Linked DNA regions of Homo sapiens. The protein of the gene in region 1 purifies or fractionates together with the protein of each later gene. This does not show direct contact. Each region holds a gene or a part of one and is shown on either strand. Other genes may lie near its edges.

Evidence for each region.
Region 2: the proteins of ABCG8 (region 1) and TSPAN3 purify together in Homo sapiens (affinity purification with mass spectrometry; 2 studies listed by BioGRID and IntAct, with this or other methods). This does not show direct contact.
Region 3: the proteins of ABCG8 (region 1) and CD320 purify together in Homo sapiens (affinity purification with mass spectrometry; 2 studies listed by BioGRID and IntAct, with this or other methods). This does not show direct contact.

The regions. Positions count from the first base shown.
Region 1 is NC_000002.12:43,841,917-43,849,039, reverse strand, and holds part of ABCG8 (ATP-binding cassette sub-family G member 8), read right to left. Parts: intron 5,254-7,123; exon of another isoform or gene 4,939-5,253; intron 4,612-4,938; exon of another isoform or gene 4,534-4,611; coding exon 4,432-4,533; intron 2,886-4,431; coding exon 2,729-2,885; intron 1-2,728. UniProt on the Homo sapiens protein: ABCG5 and ABCG8 form an obligate heterodimer that mediates Mg(2+)- and ATP-dependent sterol transport across the cell membrane.
Region 2 is NC_000015.10:77,061,110-77,068,232, forward strand, and holds part of TSPAN3 (tetraspanin-3), read right to left. Parts: intron 1-7,123. UniProt on the Homo sapiens protein: Regulates the proliferation and migration of oligodendrocytes, a process essential for normal myelination and repair.
Region 3 is NC_000019.10:8,301,538-8,305,392, forward strand, and holds the end of CD320 (CD320 antigen isoform 1 precursor), read right to left. Parts: intron 3,620-3,855; coding exon 3,494-3,619; intron 2,552-3,493; coding exon 2,318-2,551; intron 1,444-2,317; coding exon 1,240-1,443; intron 1,069-1,239; coding exon 926-1,068; 3' UTR 590-925; downstream 1-589. UniProt on the Homo sapiens protein: Receptor for transcobalamin saturated with cobalamin (TCbl). Plays an important role in cobalamin uptake. Plasma membrane protein that is expressed on follicular dendritic cells (FDC) and mediates interaction with germinal center B cells.

The DNA.
Region 1 (7,123 bases):
TTTTTTTTTTTTTTTTTTAGACAGTGTTTTGCTCTTGCTGCCCAGGCTGGAGTGCAATGGTGCAATCTCAGCTCACTGCAACCTCCACCTCCAGGGTTCAAGCGATTCTCCCACATCAGCCTCCCAAGTAGCTGGGATTACAGGCACGTGCCACCACGCCCAGCTAATTTTTTGTATTTTTTTTTTAGTAGAGACAGGGTTTCACCATGTTGGCCAGGCTGGTCTCGAACTCCTGACCTCAGGTGATCCACTTGCCTCAGCCTCCCAAAGTGCTGGGATTACAGGCATGAGCCACCGTGCCCAGCCTGGCTGTTTTCTTTGTATTTTAAAAATTATGGCCAGCGTTCTTTTGTGTGTATGTTGGGCAGGGGGAGAGGGGGATGGCAGTAAAAGTCACAGGAAGTGTAGTTGATGAACCTTTCTAATAAATCATTTTAATAATTTCAGCTGCTCAGTTAAACTAAATTTGGCCTGAGGCTGCCTGCATACTTTGAGTTCCCACAGAGCAAACTGCAAGCAAACTTAGTATGTAAACAAACTGCAACTTATCTTAGCAGTATATTCTCTTAAGACAGAGACTGGCTGAGACAAGTTGCTGAGTCTCAGCCAATCATGGCAGCCAAGCATCAGCCAATCACAGGCTACCGACTGATGAGCTCCTGTCCATACCCAACACCTGATCACATCACCCTCAAATAAATAAGGTGAACACCCAACTGTAACCAATCAGCTATTTCTGTAGGGCACTTCCTTTTTCTGTCTATAAATACTGCCTGACCAAATTGCTTGGGGGAGCCTCTGAACTGGTCCTGTTTTTGAGTGCTGCCAGATTCATTAATCACTATTTGCTCAGACAACTCTACTATTTATTTGTCTAAAGTTGTTTGTTGTTGTTTTGTTTTTTGTTTTTGTTTTTTTTACACAGGCAAGTAAACCTGAAGCCAAACAACACTGAATCTATAAACAACCAGGAGATGCTCGGTGCAGTGACTCATGCCTGTAATCCCAGCACTTTGAGAGGCCAAGGCAAGCAGATCACCTGAGGCCAGGAGTTGGAGATCAGCCTGGCCACCATGGCAAAACCATATCTCTACAAAAAATACAAAAAAAAATGAGCCAGGCATAGTGGCACCCACCTGTAATCCCAGCTACTTGGGAGGCTGAGACATGAGACTCGCTTGAACCCAGGAGGAGCGGGTTGCAGTGAGCCGAGATCACACCACTGCAATCCAGCCTAGGCAACAGAGAGAGACTGCCTCAAAAAAACAAAACAACAACAACAAAAAAAACAAAACAGGAGACTATTCAGTGTAATTTATTCATTCCTTTCTAAGAGACGGGATCGTGCTCTGTTGCCCAGGCTGGAGTGCAGTGGCGCGATCTCGACTCACTGCAAGCTCCACCTCCCAGGTTCACGCCATTCTCCTGCCTCAACCTCCCAAGTAGCTGGGACTACAGGCACCCACCACGACACCCAGCTAATTTTTTGTATTTTTAGTAGAGACGGGGTTTCACCGTGATAGCCAGGACGGTCTCGATCTCCTGACCTCGTGATCTGCCCGCCTCGGCCTCCCAAAGTGCTAGGATTACAGGTATGAGCCACTGTGCCTGGCCGGGATCTACTTTTTTCTTATTTAGGTCAGGATTGCAGGGACAGGGACAGAGTGAGAGGGACTTCATGACTGTGATGCTGTTTCAGTTACAAAGTGCATTTATACATAAGATTTCATTTGATCTTTGGTTATACGGTAAACAGAACTTATCTACCAGACGGGTGTAAAAGTTTGGAGCAGAATGTTTAAAAAATTGAGTAATCTCTACCTCTGGAAATGATTAATTAAAAGATATAAAATGCTCTCTCCAGCACTATGTAAGGGTGTCCCAGGGAGAAATGTCTTGATCCGAGAATGATGAAACCAAAGTTCTAGTTCTAGCTCTGCATTAAATATGTGTCCTTACGAGAATCCCTCAATTTCTTTGGATTTGAGTCTCCTCATCTGTCAAATGGAGGGGAGTGTGTGTGTGTGTGTGTGTGTGTGTGTGTGTGTGCACGCGCGCGTGCAGGAGGATACTCTAGACACACTGAGGAGTAGGGAGTTTGAACACCTTCCTCTGAAAATGCTTCCAAACTGGTAGGGAGAAAGAAAGGTGGAACATGATGAGAATGACCTCTGTTCCCCAAGCCCCCTTTCAGCTCAGACATTCTCTCATTTTAAATTTGGCCATGGAAATGACAATTTGAGGCACTCCAAGAACCTGGCTCTTTGCAGATGAGTGAAAGTTGTGCTAAGTAAGACACTGGAGAGGCTGTCTGAGAGGTGAGAGTGTGGCAGGGGCTGTCTGGCCATAATCAGAATGTGATTGTGGAGGAACAACCTGAACCAATGCCCCTCATGGCTGGAGGAGTCTGAAAAGAACATTACATGCTGGAGCTGTTTGCTGATCTCTCCGTCCAGGTGTTAGCCAAAGTCAGATGCTCTGGCCACAGCCTCGGGTGGACAAGAGGCGCACTCATGACTCTTAACAACAGCACCTACCCTCAAGCCAGCAAATGGAGGAGCCAGGATTTGAGCCCAGGTCTGTCTGACCCAGAACCTGTGTTCTCAGCCATTCTGCTGTATTATTCTACTAGTCAGCAAAGAGCTCCATAAGAAGCATCCATTTGTCCAAAGGACCATTCTGTATCCCAGGAGAGAAACCATTGCCCAGCGATTTGCCTTTCCGGTACCTGAGCTCCCTATGATGGCCAGCATCTGCCCACTTCTCACTTTGAAGCTTAGGTTCTGGATGCCCAGCTCACAAGAATTCTGGCAGCTGGGAGATGTCCAGGGCATCTTGAACTGAGCCAGCTGCTCAAACCAAGGGACCTGAGAGGCCAGGTCCACCTGTGGGGAGATATCAGAAGGTTCCTTAGAGAGCTGAATGGTTCAGAGGGCTTCAGCAACTTCTGTTCAGCATCTTCGTTCCCCAGGTGGCCCCTCTCCACAGAGGATATGTCCTCACCTACACACAATAGGCCCCAACCCAGGTTCTACCAAACACGGAAGCAGGACCCATGCTGAGAACCTGTAGCTGCTGTTTCTAGGTCTGAAGATAAGAAGAATGAAAAGCATGTACAGGCCAGGCATGGTGGCTCATGCCTGTAATCTCAGCACTTTGGAAGGCTGAGGCAGGTGGATCACCTGAGGTCAGGAGTTTGAGACCAGCCTGGCCAACATGGTAAAACCCCGCCTCTACTAAAAATACAAAAATTAGCCAGGCATGGTGGTGGTTGCCTGTAATCCCAGCTACTTGGGAGGCTGAGGCAGGAGAATCACTTGAATTTGGGAGGCAGAGATTGCAGTCAGCCAAGATTGCACCACTGCATCCCAGCCTGGGTGACAGAATGAGACTCCATCTCAAAAAAAAAAGTAAGGAAAAAAGAAAATCATGTGCAATAGTGGTACAGAAATAAAAATAAAACACGAAGCAAAATGTCTTCACTTGATACTAGTAATTTACTAATAATTTATCAGATGTTTACTATGTGCAAGACATTGTGTTAATCACTTAACATCCATCACCTTATTCAATCCTCACTGCAAATCTATAACATAGATATGCTCAGAATCCTTGTTTTACAGATGAGGCTCAGGGCAGTTAAGCAACTTGCTCAAGGTCACACAGCTGGTAAGTGGCAGAGCAGAGAAAGGCTCATTGGCTTGTCCCAACTCACACCCACAGGAAGCCAGACTCAGGCCTCTGAAGTTCACCATCCCAGACCCCACCATGTCCCATCTGGGTCCCTGGGGAGCTGTGGGAATATGGATCCTTGAATCTGACCAGGGGGTTCCTGGGTGCCTCTGAAAGGTCAGTCATTGTCTTTGCACTCTGGATGTTTTATAAGCTCCAGGGATAGTACATTTTACAAAAAAAAAATTATATATATATATATATATATACACACACACACACACACATATATATATAACTAATGAAATCTGAATAAAGTCTGTAGTTAATAGCATTGTACATTGTTCATTTCTTAGTGTTCATAATTATACTATGGGTATGCAAGATGTTAACATTAGGGGAAGCTGGACAATGGGTATATGGAAACACTGTGTTATTTTTGCAATTTTTTCCAAAATCTAAAGTTATTTCAAAATATAGTTTAAAAAGAGTCCCAGAGACATTTTTCTATAGGTTCACGCATTTTGTTTTATGTTTATACAACAGTTTTATTCTCTTTTCAAGCCTCTCAACCTCCAGCTCTGATATATGCCATTGATGACACCTATTGCACCTGACACGTGAGGCATCAATGTGGACTGGACTCTGTCCTTGCGGGCAGAGGGCCTGCAAGTTGGGCCCACCCTTTTATTTCCACCCGGGGAATTTCCTGGCTGTCCCTGCCTGCTCCTCTCCCCTTGAACCCAGGCGTGCCTCTACCTGGTAGTTGAGGTCTCTGACCTCCAGGGTGTTGGGCTGGCCACTGTAGGTGAAGTACAGGCTGTTGTCACTTTCAGAGGAGAACAATCTATCCTGGAGGCCCTGTGGGAGACAGGAGAGATGAGGGGCTCCTTTAGAAGCTGCTGAGAACATAGGAGAAGACAAGAAGGAAACCAACAGGTGAGAGCAACTTCTTAGAGCCGACGTGGTTAAATCTCAAATTGGCAACAGATGGGATTGCACAGGTGGAACCTCAGGGCTTTGGGAAAATAGGAGTGCTGACAAGGGCCCATCTCCTCTTCCCTTCAGAGAGAGGTTTGGGGCTTCTCCCGGGGCACCTTCCCAGAGAACCTCAACCTCAGGCTGGTGGAGCCTGAAGCCAAGCAGCTTCTGGTAAAGAGACCCAGACTCTGGACCGGAGAGAGTTCTATAAAAAAACCTCTGTGCTCTGAGAAGACCTGACTGGAGTGGGCAAACTCTTTGCCTTTAACTTTCTCTTCCCTGCAGCTGGCTTAATATCTCCTGAGGCCAAACAGACATGACACTTGCAGCATGTGAGAGGGAAGCAGCTGTTGAGAGTTAATGCCCAATATTCATGAAGATACCACCCTGAGAAAAATTCTAACCAACATCTTAGTCCTCACTAACATCTGGCATACTTCTCCTCATATCTGATTTTGATGAAGAGTTCATGCAACAAAGTGATGGAAAATGCTGCTGGGAGCTTTGAGAGGAAGTCCCTCTCATCATCATCATCATGTTGTTGTTATTGTCGAAGTGGTGGTATATTTGAATGTACATTAAAAAATCAATGTTTCATGGTGTCGGCTGATACCTTTGAATGGTATTAACCATCTGCAGATCTCAATTCCTCCTATTTTGACAATTCAATCATTTAAACCATTGAGGCCCAAACAAAGAAGCAACAGGAAGTCCCCCATCATTTCTTTTTCTTTGGATTGGGTCTCGCTCTATCACCCAGGATGGAGTGCAGTGACATGATCACAGCTCACTGCATCCTCAACCTCTCAGGCTCAAGCAATCCTCCCACCTCAGCCTCCCCACCACACCCAGCTAATTTTTGTATTTTTTGTAGAGACAGGGTTTCACCATGTTGGTCTCAAACTCCTGGGCTCAAGTGATCCACCCACCTCAGCATCCCAAAGTGCTGTGATTACAAGGGTGAACCACCTCGTCTGACCTCCATTTTTTACTGCATTCAATTTTTCTTACATTTCTGTCAGGCAGGAACAAGTACACTTTCATTAACAAGTTCCCATAGACTTTCCTCCTCAAGCTACCATTCTCACACTATACATTCCTTCAATCAACCATGCACCCAACAAACACTTATGGGGAGCCCAGAACACCCTTCAGGCTTGGAATTTGGGATGTGACAATGAAAAGGCCGTTGAAAAGCTTAGATTTTGGCAGATGAGACAGGTGATTACGATGGAGCGAGACAGACCAGGCAGAGAGGGAGGCTGACCTCAAGCATCTGACCAGGGTTTATTTTCACTATGTACACAATGCACGCACATGCTGTAGGTGAAACTAACATGACTTATGCCTTACGTGAAAATAACAAATAACATACAGCAGTCTTCTTGTCAAAGTACCCCTGCAATGATGGGGGCCAGAAGTTCTCGGAAAGAACATTCCAGGTCAGTGGAGGTGGAGGGAAAGAAATTCGGTGACAGTATGCCGCAGGCGTGCTGTGGGGAACCCTTAGAGTTCTGGGAGAGTATGAAAAACAGCAGACGAAAGTGACTTCCATTGCTTAATGTTTGAATTATCACCATAAAGACCCAAAATTATACAGAAAAAAATGGGAAAGATAAACACCTAATTCAGGAGAGGGGTTATCTCTGGGGAGCGGGGAGAGATGAAAGGAGAAAGGGGACACAGTAGGAGTGCGGGGATCAAGCTTCAAAGCTTTTGGTAATTGGTGGTGTGTACATGAGAGTTCTTTAAGCTGATTTGTGTACGATATTTCACAATATGTTGTCAAATTGAGAGAGCAAGCCAGTGAGTAGAACTCCAGAGTTCCATTCCCACCTCAACCCCAGTTGCCAAAGCCCCCAAGCAGGAGGGAGGTTGAGGGAGAGGAGGTAAGAAGGTCTGTGCCCCAAGCTCCTGAGGAGATTGAAAGCAGCTCGGACAGATGCTGGACTCCTGGCAGATCAGCCCTTCGGCCTTGCCCCTCACTCGCCCTCTCCGCTGTCACTGTGCACATTGCTTCATTGTCCCATTTTTGTTGTTGTTGTTGAATCATCAAAAAATCTTAGCCATTGCCAGCTGTGCGCAGTGGCTCATGCCTGTAATCCCAGCACTTTGGGAAGCTGAGGAGGGCAGATCACCTGAGGCCAGGAGTTCAAGACCAGCTTGGCCAAAACAGTGAAACCCTGTCTCTACTAAAAATACAAAAAAAAATTGCCGGGCATGGTGGCACACCCCTATAGTCCCAGCTACCCTACTCAAGAGGTTGAGGCAGGAGAATCACTTGAACCGGCAGGTGGAGGTGCAGGGAGCCGAGATCGTGCCTCTGCACTCCAGCCTGGGCCACAGCGTGAGACTCTGTCAAAAAAAAAAAAATCTTATCCATTTCTAAGAGACTCATGTGGGCTAACATGCATCTTGCTGTTGTTGTTTTTAAAACAAATATCTGCAGGAGGGATATTAGACAATGTAA
Region 2 (7,123 bases), on another chromosome or scaffold:
GCACAAATGTGAAATATCTTAAAGAGATTTCATTCTTATATGAGATTGCTTTTTCCATAGCTTAGAAACTAGTTTTTGGGGGGGTAATTTTCAAATATTCTATGAAAGAGACAAGTAGATAAAATGTTAAAATCTGGGCCAGGCGCAGTAGCTCACACCAGTAATCCCAGCACTTTGGGAGGCCAAGGCCGGCAGATCATCTGAGGTCATGAATTCGAGACCGGCCTGACCAACATGCAGAAACCCCGTCTCTACTAAAAATACAAAATTAGCCGGGCGTGGTGGCACATGCCTGTAATCCCAGCTACTCAGAAACGCTGAGGCAGGAGAATCGCTTGAACCTGGAAGGCAGAGGTTGCAGTGAGCCGAGATTGCGCCACTGCACTCCAGCCTGGGCAACAAGAGCAAAACTCAGTCTCAAAAAATTAAAAAAAAAAAAGTTAAAATCTGTAAAACTATTAAATTCCTTTTCATCAACCACGGTGTAACCTGCCATTGGAATGTGGCAATATTAAAAATGAAACAGATTTGCTACAAGTGGGGAGATAAAGTAGCTCTGTTGCCAAAAGTATACCTACATGGAGATTTAGAAATACAAAGGCGAAAGCATCCCACAGGACATTTTGGGCGAAGCTGAAGCAAAGAATAGAAGTGATTTTCTTGCAGTGGTATGTAGTAGCCATTGATGATGATTCCCATCTAGAACTGGCAAGAATCAAAACAATGTAAAGACAAGGCACCATCTGGACTTTATTCACCTAAAAGCACAGTGCCTGACAAATTCTTGCTTGCCTGTGTGAACTGCTCCCTTCGGAGTGATTTTTGCCAAAGAATCAATTAGTAAAGTAGAAGTGACTGGAGTGTTGAGAGAAAGGAAAAAAGTCAAGAAGTAAAAGACTGAGCAAAAAATGCTGTACTCTAGACTTTGTAAGAAAGCAGGTTTTAAAAGCAGAGGGAAAAAATAGGCAGGAATCCATCTTATGCATATATCTTTTTAACATTAAATCCAGAGTTTCCTGTACTGTCATATTATTTTTCATATACCTCTTTTCTCTCCTGGGAAGAATCGTTGGTAATTCCACACAGTGGATTTCTGAAAGCTTCCCCAAACTTCACCCTTATGCCATTACAAGTGTCTTAAAATCATCTTAAATCGTTTAGCATTCTACTTGCCATAATGTATATTCTCTAATTCAACCATGCTTTCACCTCTGACTTAATCTGATAGAACAGTTTACGTCACTAAACACAACTACTTCTTATGTAAGTCCACTACCTGAATATATCATTTACTCTCCTACCAACTCTCAAGGAAAAAAGGCCATTCCAAAGACTCCAAATCCTCTTTCAGAAATTAAAGCTACTCTTACCAAGAATTTCTGAAGCTATTAAATACTATCATTTTCTACCTAACAAACTGATCAGCAATAAAGTTAAGGAGTATTCAAAGATGTGTGAGGGTGCAGAGAGAAGGGCCCTCAGATGGGCGGAAGCACAAACTAATAGAGAATCATTTTTTTGGAAACAATCTGGCAATACATATCTGCCTCAGCATTGATGCCTTTATACCTACTTATTCCACTTCCAGGAATCTATCCTTTAGAAAGTTAGTCAGAAACACAGATTTGTGTAAAAGGTAATTCATCGAGATGTTGTAATGAAATTGTGGCTGCAAAAATGAAAATGAAAAAGCCCTGGTATTCAGAGGTGTGTCTGCATTCAGCCCTGAAATATTTTCTTAAAGCATCATTTAATAATATGCTTGTGGTGTGATAGGGGAAAAAACACATATATCACATATTGGAAACAAACCAAAATGTTGATATTGGTTGTCTCTGGGTGGTAGAATTATGGGTGATACCAGTTTGCTTTTTAAAATACTTTTAGTGTCTTCTTTAAAATATATTACTTGCATAATTAGAATAATAGTTAAAATTATGTCTGAAATTGAGGCTTTAATGTTCTCTCACCAATGAATTCATTCCTGGATGTGTCCTTAACCAACCAAAAACAGACACCTCTTCCATCCTAAATATTTTAGGCACCTCTGCCAATCTCTCCCACTTACCACTTTTCTCAGGTCTGTGTGGCTTTGACTCATCCTGTACATGTTTTCTGATTATCTAACACAATTCTTTCAATGTACATTATGTTCCTTTTCTCATAAATATTACTTTTCAAGGAGACAAGTTTTTTTTAAAGTCCTACTTAAATTGGGGTGTAAAGTTTTATGTGTGTTTTTTTAACTCACCACTATACTAATGAGAAAATTCTATTTTTTTTTTTTAAGACAGGGTCTTGCTATGTTGCCCAGGCTGGCCTCAGACTCCTTCCCTCAGGGGATCCTCTCATCTCAGTCTTACTTGTAGCTAGGATTACAGGCATGTGCCACCAAGCCTGGCTAAGAGTTTAAAGTTCTGACAAGCCACTTTTGCCATCAACATCACTATTATTATTGCCATTATTCTTAAATTAGAAATATTTTAATCCTTTTTACTGCTATTACTCTGATGATATGCCAAAGGTCATGCTCCTCAATTCTGCCTTATTTTCACCTTTTCTCTATTTGGTTTTTCATAATCATTATTAAACCAGCTTAACAAAGTTGTTCTATTTAATCCAATATCTACTGGCTGAACAACTCAAAATTTCAGGTGGCAAAGAAACTGGAGATTAACCAATTGCCATTGCCAAATTATTGTAACAGCATGGAAACTGGCTGTTTCCAGACAGTAGGGCTCCAGAGGTTATCTGAGAAGCCTGAAATTTAAATATGCATTTTCTTTGAGACCCTCTGTTACCCCACCCTACTCTAATTGTAAAAAGAGTCCATTACAACATCATAGGAGCCTGAGGTGCTTAAGCTTTGTAATGCTAGAGTTCATCCACACTTGGGTTATGTGTTTAATCAGTAGCAACAACAATGTAAGTTACAAAATGTCAACATTTATTCTAGAACCCCTTTAGTAGATTACAAACTACACATAAATGCAGATAATTTTTCTTACCTATTAACTCTGCCTAACTACTAAAAGGAAGACAGTGAGGAGAAGGAAGAGGAAGAAGATATGTCAATATTTTTCAATAAAGACTTACTTGAGACCAGCCATGAGTAAGATTTCTGGGGGAAAGGTGCATGTAGAAATTTAATTCGATGAAAAGTCTACCCTCTCTCCCCATTAGCTGTCAGACTACAGGGACTGTGTTTACTCTATTTCTCAAAAAAAGGTCAAGGGTAGATATTCAACACACATTTACTCATGAATGATTCTTAGTACACCCGTCTGGTCTAAGTACAAACTTTATGGAATACATTTTCTGAAAAAAAAAATCAAACAAGCCTAACCTGAATTGGATCTTATGGAATAAAATTCATTAAATTATTTCAAAGCATGATAAATATCCTAGAAAGCTAATAACCCATTCCCTAAACTGCAACTAGAGAGAGCGCCCCTGCTGATTCCAAGTTCTAAATGATTACTCAGGGCCACAAGGCTCTTGGTCAGTGGACAGGTGACTAAGAATGTAGTAAGAGTGGAAACATTCATTTTCTTAACTGTTGAAGACAAACTAAGACAGACACTTCCTATTATGTACTTGCTTCCTGACAAGTTAGATTTTCTTCTAGTGAATTGAAAACAAGCATGAAAAAGCAAAGTTAGCTGAAGGTGTGTCCCATGACATATTCTTTGTCAGAGCAGTCATTCATGATAGGAGAAATACAGGAAGTAGAGAAACAAATTCCAGGATATCAGATGCAGGTTCCGGTTTAAAAGTATCATATTACCACCTCGAATGTGTAGGATGTGCTGGAAAACACAAAGTATGTACAAGATTTGTGACAAGGGAGAACCACACTTGAAATACCTCATTATAAAGTTTTATTTTTTAAACAAAAGCATGACGGTATAAACCTCTTAGTAATTTGAACATAGCAAGTATATTTTTGCCTTACAGCCTACAGCCTGTTCCTTCAGTTCTGAATCCCCCCAGTCTCCCAATCTCTTCCAAATCACCCAAGTCAGCAACTTCTTATACTCCAGATTTTTTTTGCCAACATAAAGCACGACCCAATCACTTTATCACATCACCCTTTAATTCTCTGCATAACACATCACTCTGATCATTTTTCTTGTTTATTTTTGTGTGTCTTGCTTCACCGGAAAGTAAGTTCTGTAAGAATAGGGATTTTTCACTGTCTTTTCATCATTTATCAACAATATAAGCACAAAGTAGGTGCTCAAATAGTAGTGTTATATTTAACAAAGCAAATTTTCCTTAATTATATACATTCACAGACATAAGCGTGATAAGTTTTATTTATTTATTTATTTTGAGATGGAGTCTCGCTCTGTCGCCCAGGCTGGAGTGCAGTGGCTCGATCGCCGCTCACTACAAGCTCCGCCTCCCGGGTTCACGCCATGCTCCTGCCTCAGCCTCCCGAGTAGCTGGGACTACAAGTGCCCACCACCACATCTGGCTAATTTTTTGTATTTTTAGTAGAGACGGGGTTTCACCGTGTTAGTCAGGAGGGTGATCTGCCACCCTTGGCGTCCCAAAGTGCTGGGATTACAGGCATGAGCCACCGCACCTGGCTGATAAGTTTTATTTTTAAAGGCAGGATAAGTTTTAAAGGTTACATATGGCTTTCAACTACAATTTATATGTGTGAAGTATTTCATATGAATGAATGATGGTTAGTGAAGGTGCCACGTTCCAAAGCTATTTCTAAAGGCATTTATTTAAAAGGCGTTTGACTTTTTTGCGGTACTTCCCCCACTCTACAGGTGTCTCAGTTTTATACTATCACCTCTCAGATGAAAAACAACAACCTAAATAGATATTTAAGATTATAAATTCTATAAGCATGGACAAAGCTTTCTGTTCCAGTCCCTGTAATGCCTAAGATAAATATGAGCAAAATAAGTATTAGCCAATTAGTTTTTCTAATAGGGTTTAAAAAAAAAGTAAAGGTAATTTGTATAACATAGGACTTGATTAAATAATCAATTAATTTACCGGAATAAAAACTTAATGGTAGGAAGTACTGATTTAAACTTGTTTTAGACGAGCCCTCTTTGGTCAGATTAAATGACTTACCAAACTAAAAATCCTGTCTGACCTTGGTACAAAGGTGCAGTTTACAGAATAGGCTAATGCCTATTTAATACAATAGCCTTTGCTGGGCGCGGTGGCTCACGCCTGTAATCCTAGCACTTTGGGAGACCAAGGCAGATGGATCAAGAGGTCAGGAGTTCGAGACCAGCCTGGCCAATATGGTGAAACCCTGTCTCTGTTAAAAAAATACGAAAATTAGCTGGGCATGGTGGCGCACGCCTGTAGTCCCAGCTACTCGGGAGGCTGAGGCAGGAAGATCGCTTGAACCCGGGAGACAGAGGCTGCAGTCAGCCAAGATCGCACCACTGCACTCCAGCCTGGGCGACAGAGTAAGACTTCGTCTCAAAAAAAAAAAAAAAAAAAAAAAAAAAAAGCCTTTAAAATTTAGTCATTTACCTAAAACACTTCTAACCTTCTTCAATAAATCCTCATGGGTCCAGCATGAATACACTTATATTTAAAGCCTCATCATTCCATAAAAACAGAGATCCAAGATGATCCAAGCTGTACATCCTTTCACTTGTCCAAGATTATCTTTCAAGCTACAAATCTTAATATTCTAGAATTTGGTGAGAAACTGTCTTAGTCTGTTTTCTGTTGCTTAGAACAGAATACCTGAAACTGGGTAATTTAAGAAATTTTTTTACATACATGGAGGCTGAGAAGTTCAAGGTCAAGGGGCCGTAGCTGGTCAGGGCCTTCTGCAAAGTCCTGAGGTGGCCCAGGACATCACACGTGGTGAGGGGGCTGAGTATGCTGGCTCACGTCTCTCTGCCTCTTCTTATAAAGCCACCAGTCCCATTCCCATGAAAACCCATTAATCCATTAATCCATGAATGGATTAATCCATTCATGAGGGTAGAGCCCTCATGACCCAATCACCTCTTAAAGGCCCCATCTCTCAATACGGCCACATTGGGGATTCAGTTTCAACATGAGTTTTATAAAGGACAAACATTCTAACCATAGCAGGAGTTCCCTATTTCCATTAAGACAAATTTCAGGATTTTAGAAATGATTGTTTCTGCTTTTGGTTTGTGCCTTTCCACAGTAACATTATTACAGCATTGTTCCAAACTATCTACACCAAATCAACAGTAACGATTTTAGCTGTCAGATAATTTACAGCCTGAGTATTTCAGGTATATATCTATCTCCATGTCACAGTTCAATGAACAAAATGCCAGCAGAATCAGGATATCAAGACATAAGAAAGTGTAGTTTAAAGGTCTTGCCAAAGCAATTAAACTTTGACCCTTGTTAACAATCAGCCATTACCATCTGACAGTGAAGAGCCAATGCAACATAGTTTTTATTGCCTACAGTTGCCCAAGGGAACCTAGGTAAACATTTGATAAGCTCTATGGAGAGTATGTTTATTCTTCCACTTATTCATCATCTCAAGGCATTAAAAGGAGGGAGGGGCCAGCATATAAGAATACATTTATTAGAACTGAAGAATGCATTACAAATTCCCAGGAAGAACCTTTTAACATTTTTTAATGTACTTCCTCATAATGACTTAATTCAAAACCAAACAAAGTGTCATGTAAATTCTGGTACAGTTTCTAATTTTAGCAATCTCAAAATCAGCATGCTTTAGAGAAGTGATTCTAACAACTTTCTTCTCTTTACAAATCTTCTGAAATCACACTTTGTCCTAACATCACAGTCTCTAGAGTATGGGACAACCTGGGTTTGAACGCAGGCTGTATCACACCTTGGGTGTGCTACTTTGGCTCAGTCAACCTTAATGTTCTCCTCTAAAATGTACCTAATATTCCCTGCTAGATGGGAAAGCTGTGAGGATATGCCATGTAAAGTGTTTAGCACAGTGCCTGGGGTATAGTAACTCAAATGTTAGTTGCCATTACCCATCATCATCAGATTCCCACAGTTAGTCCACAAACTAATACTTTCTTGGGAGACATACCTAATGCTGTTTCCTCATTAGCTACATTGCACTGTGACACATTTGCCCCCAGCGTATCTGCTTAACTTCCTT
Region 3 (3,855 bases), on another chromosome or scaffold:
CTGCAATTTCCACCTCCCAGGTTCAAGGGATTCTCCTGTCTCAGCCTCCCGAGTAGCTGGGATTACAGACGCCTGCCACCACACCCAACCAATTTTTTGTATTTTTGGTAGAGACAGGGTTTCACCATATTGGCCAGGCTGGTCTCGAACTCCTGACCTCAGGTGATCCGCCCACCTCTCGGCCTCCCAAAGTGCTGGGATTACAGGTGTGAGCCACTGTGCCCGGCCAAAACGCAGTCTCTAAAAACATAATTAAAAAATAATTAAAACAGGGTGAGTCTGAGACCATCCCAGGAAACCTGGCTTCCACTGCACTGAGGAGGAAGCCACAGTGGGTGGGGGTCCCCAGACCTGGGAATGGGAAGGCACTGCCCAAGCTCTGCTCTTCTTCCAAGAATCCTGATGTTAACGCAGACTCCCCACCCCAGCCCTGCTGCCCCTGCTCCCAAAAAGCAAGCAGCACAGTAGCTGCACACAGGGCTGGGTGTCCATGTCCCACCTTCTATGGGCTGGGCTCTCATGGAGGAGGGGCTGCAGCAGCGACCCCAGGCTGCCCAGGCCAAGGGAGACAGAGACCCAGAGGCAGGCGGAGGATGTGAAGCAACTTTAATTGCCACCCTCAGACGGGGCAGCAGGAGTGTCTTAAGCACAGGGCCGTTCTACCCCCTGGGAGCTGCCTGGGGCCAGCCCCTCAGTTCTGGCTGTGGCAGGTTCCCCATCCTAGCTCCCCGGATCTCCATAGGGAGTGTCCAGGGACCCTCAATCTCCAGGGCCACTTCTGCAGGAGCTCGGGTTCGAGGTTCCACGTGGCCAGAAGAGCTCAGGTCTCTGAGGGCTGGTGTGCCCGGGTACCCATCCGCATCACTGCTCTCCTCCTGTCCGGCTACGCCCAGGGCTGAGTGACGGTGGTGGCAAGTGCTTGTCCTCAGGGCAGCGAGGTCTTCTGTTCTGACAGCAGCAGGGACTCCTTCATGGCCACCAGTAACCCCAGTGGGCGGAGGCGCTCCTGGGCTCGGAGCCAGGACAAAAGGAGGAGGGTGGCGGTGACCAGGCTTGCACTGAGCACCGCTGTGGGGAACAGATGGACAGAGGAGTAAGGAGGGGGAAGGCAAGAGCCCCCACACCCACCAAGCTCCATACACATGGGGATGGGAGTTCTGCAGCTCATCCCTCCCCACCCACCTCCCCTGAATCCCCGGAGCTCTAAGCCCCCAGCATGGGAGGGTAAGTCCCTCTTACCAGCAGCTGCAATAACCCCATAGGCAGTTGGGCTTCCAGACTGGTCTCCGGCAGAGGAGGATGTGGCATTCCCGACAGAGGGGACACTCTCCAGGGTCACAGGGGGCCCCATGGTTGTGGCATTCCTGAGAGAGGTGACACTCTCCAGGGTCACAGGGGGCCCCATGGTTGTGGCATCCCCTTCCGGGAGGATCTCATTGGTTCCTGCAATAAGCCCAGGCGTTCAGTAGTTGAGGAGAGAGCACTGAAGGCGTGAGGGGGCCAGATGCCCAGGGGAGCCCTTGGGGTTTATCCTCAACCAACCAGGCTGGGTGAAGCTGACTGCCCGTAATTATGTCTTTTTTTTTTTTTTTTTTTGGAGAGGGAGTCTGGCTCTGCCACCCAGGCTGGAGTGCAGTGGCGCAATATTGGCTCAGTGAAACCTCTGCCTCCTGAGTTCAAACAATTATCCTGTCTTAGCCTCCCGAGTAGCTGGGATTACAGGTGCACGCCACCACGCCTAGCTAACTTTTGTATTTTTAGTAGAGACAGGATTTCGCCATGTTGGCCAGACTGGTCTCGAACACCTCACCTCAGGTGATCTGCCTGCCTCGGCCTCCCAAAGTGCTAGGATTACAGGCGTTAGCCACCGTGCCCGGCCTTTTTTAAATTTTTTTGAGACAGAGTTTTGCTGTCACCCAGACTGGTGTGCAGTGGCCCAATCTCAGCTCACTGCAACCTCTGCCTCCCAGGTTCAAGCGGTTCTCCTGACTCAGCCTCCTGAGTAGCTCGGATTACAGGTGTGTGCCACCATGCCCAGCAAATTTTTTTGTACTTTTAGTAGAGACGGGGTTTCGCAGTGTTTGCCAGGCAGGTCTCGAAATCCTGACCTCAGATGATCCGCCCACCTCAGCCTCCCAAAGTGCTGGGATTACAGGCGTGAGCCACCGGGCCCGGCCCCTAATGATGTCTTGATTCCCCCACAGGGATGCAGGCACGGGCAAAGGCATGTGTCCACGCCCCCAGCCTGGCCACGCCCCAGCAGGCAGTGGGTGTCCCCATCTACCCACGAGTCCACCCCAGCCCCGCAGGTGCATACCACAGCCGAGCTCGTCGCTGGAGTCGGGACAGTCTGGGTGGCCGTCGCAGCGCCACGTGAGTGGAATGCAGTCATCGCTCAGCGTGCAACGGAGCTCGCCTGCTAGGCAGGCCAGGCGGCTGCAGTTGCGCAGTTTCTTGTCAGTTCCCCCAGAGCAGTCACTGACGCCGGTGCAGGGGCAGGGGAGGCCAGGGGGCGGTGGGCATTGCCCTTTCTGGGTACATGGCTCAATCCCTGGGGCACAGGGTTGGTCAGGTCCCAAATGCCCACCCAAGAAGGCCCAGGTACTCCCTGAAACCCCATCCCCTGCAAGCCCCACCCTCTAAGAACAGCTGAGCCCAAAAAAATGCTCCCTTCCTAAGGCTCCGCCCCCTGCAACTGTTAACTCCACTTTCTAAGGACAGGCCTCCCTGCAAGCTCTTCCCCTGAGACCCCACTAGCTCTACCTTCCTACAAGCCCACTTTATTCTATTTGTTTGTTTGTTTCTTTCTTTATTTTTTCTTTTGAGACGGGGTCTCCCTTTGCTGCCCAGGCTGCAGTGCAGTGGCGCAATCTCGACTCACTGAAACCTCTGCCTCCCAGGGTCAAGTGATTCTCCTGCCTTAGCCTCCTGACTAGCTGGGATTACAGGGGCCTGCCGCCACATCCAGCTAACTTTTGTATTTTTAGTAGAGATGGGGTTTCACTGTGTTGGCCAGGCTGGTCTCGAACGCCTGACCTCAAGTGATCCGCCTGCCTTGGCCTCCCAAAGTGCTGGGATTACATGTGTGAGCCACCGTACCTGGCTCCCTCCCTCTCTCTTTCCTTCCTTTCTTTCCTTTCTTTCATTTTTCTTTTTTTTTTCTTTTTCTTTTTTTTTCCTGAGACAGTCTTACTCTGTTGCCCAGGCTGGAGTGCACTGGCACAATCCTAGCTCACTGCAGCGGCAACCTCCCAGGATCAAGTGATCGATCCTCCCACCCTAGCCTCCCAAAGTGCTGGGATTGCAGGCGTGAGCCACTGCGCCCAGCCCAAGCCCATCTTAGACCCCGCTTCTTATGACCCACAGACCCAAGTCGCACCCATCCCTGCGGCCCTGCCTTTCCCACAAGCTCCACCTCCGCGTGCCTGGCCCCTGACAAACCACCCTCAGGCCCCGCCCCCTGTAAGCCCCGCCAAGGGGCGTGGCCACTCACTGCACTCCTCCTCATCGCTGCCATCGCTGCAGTCCAAGTCCCTGTCGCAGCGCCAGGTGAGGGGCACGCATAAGCCACTGGTGCGGCACTGGAACTTGGTGGGTGGGCACGAGCCTGAGCTGGGGCCTGCGAGATGGATGCAAATGAAGCCTGGGAAGCTGGAGGCTGGACCTTTCTCCAAGAGCACAGTAGTCACTGGCTGTGATCCGCAGGAGACAGGCGAAGTCCCGGGATATAGGAACCACACTGGCGGCTGCTTGTTACTGAGCCCCTAGTACGAGTGGGGTTCAGAGTGTAGCAGTTCCTGGGCTCAAGAGCCCCACTGGGCAGGTGCTACTGCACTCCCCAGGTTACAGAGAAAG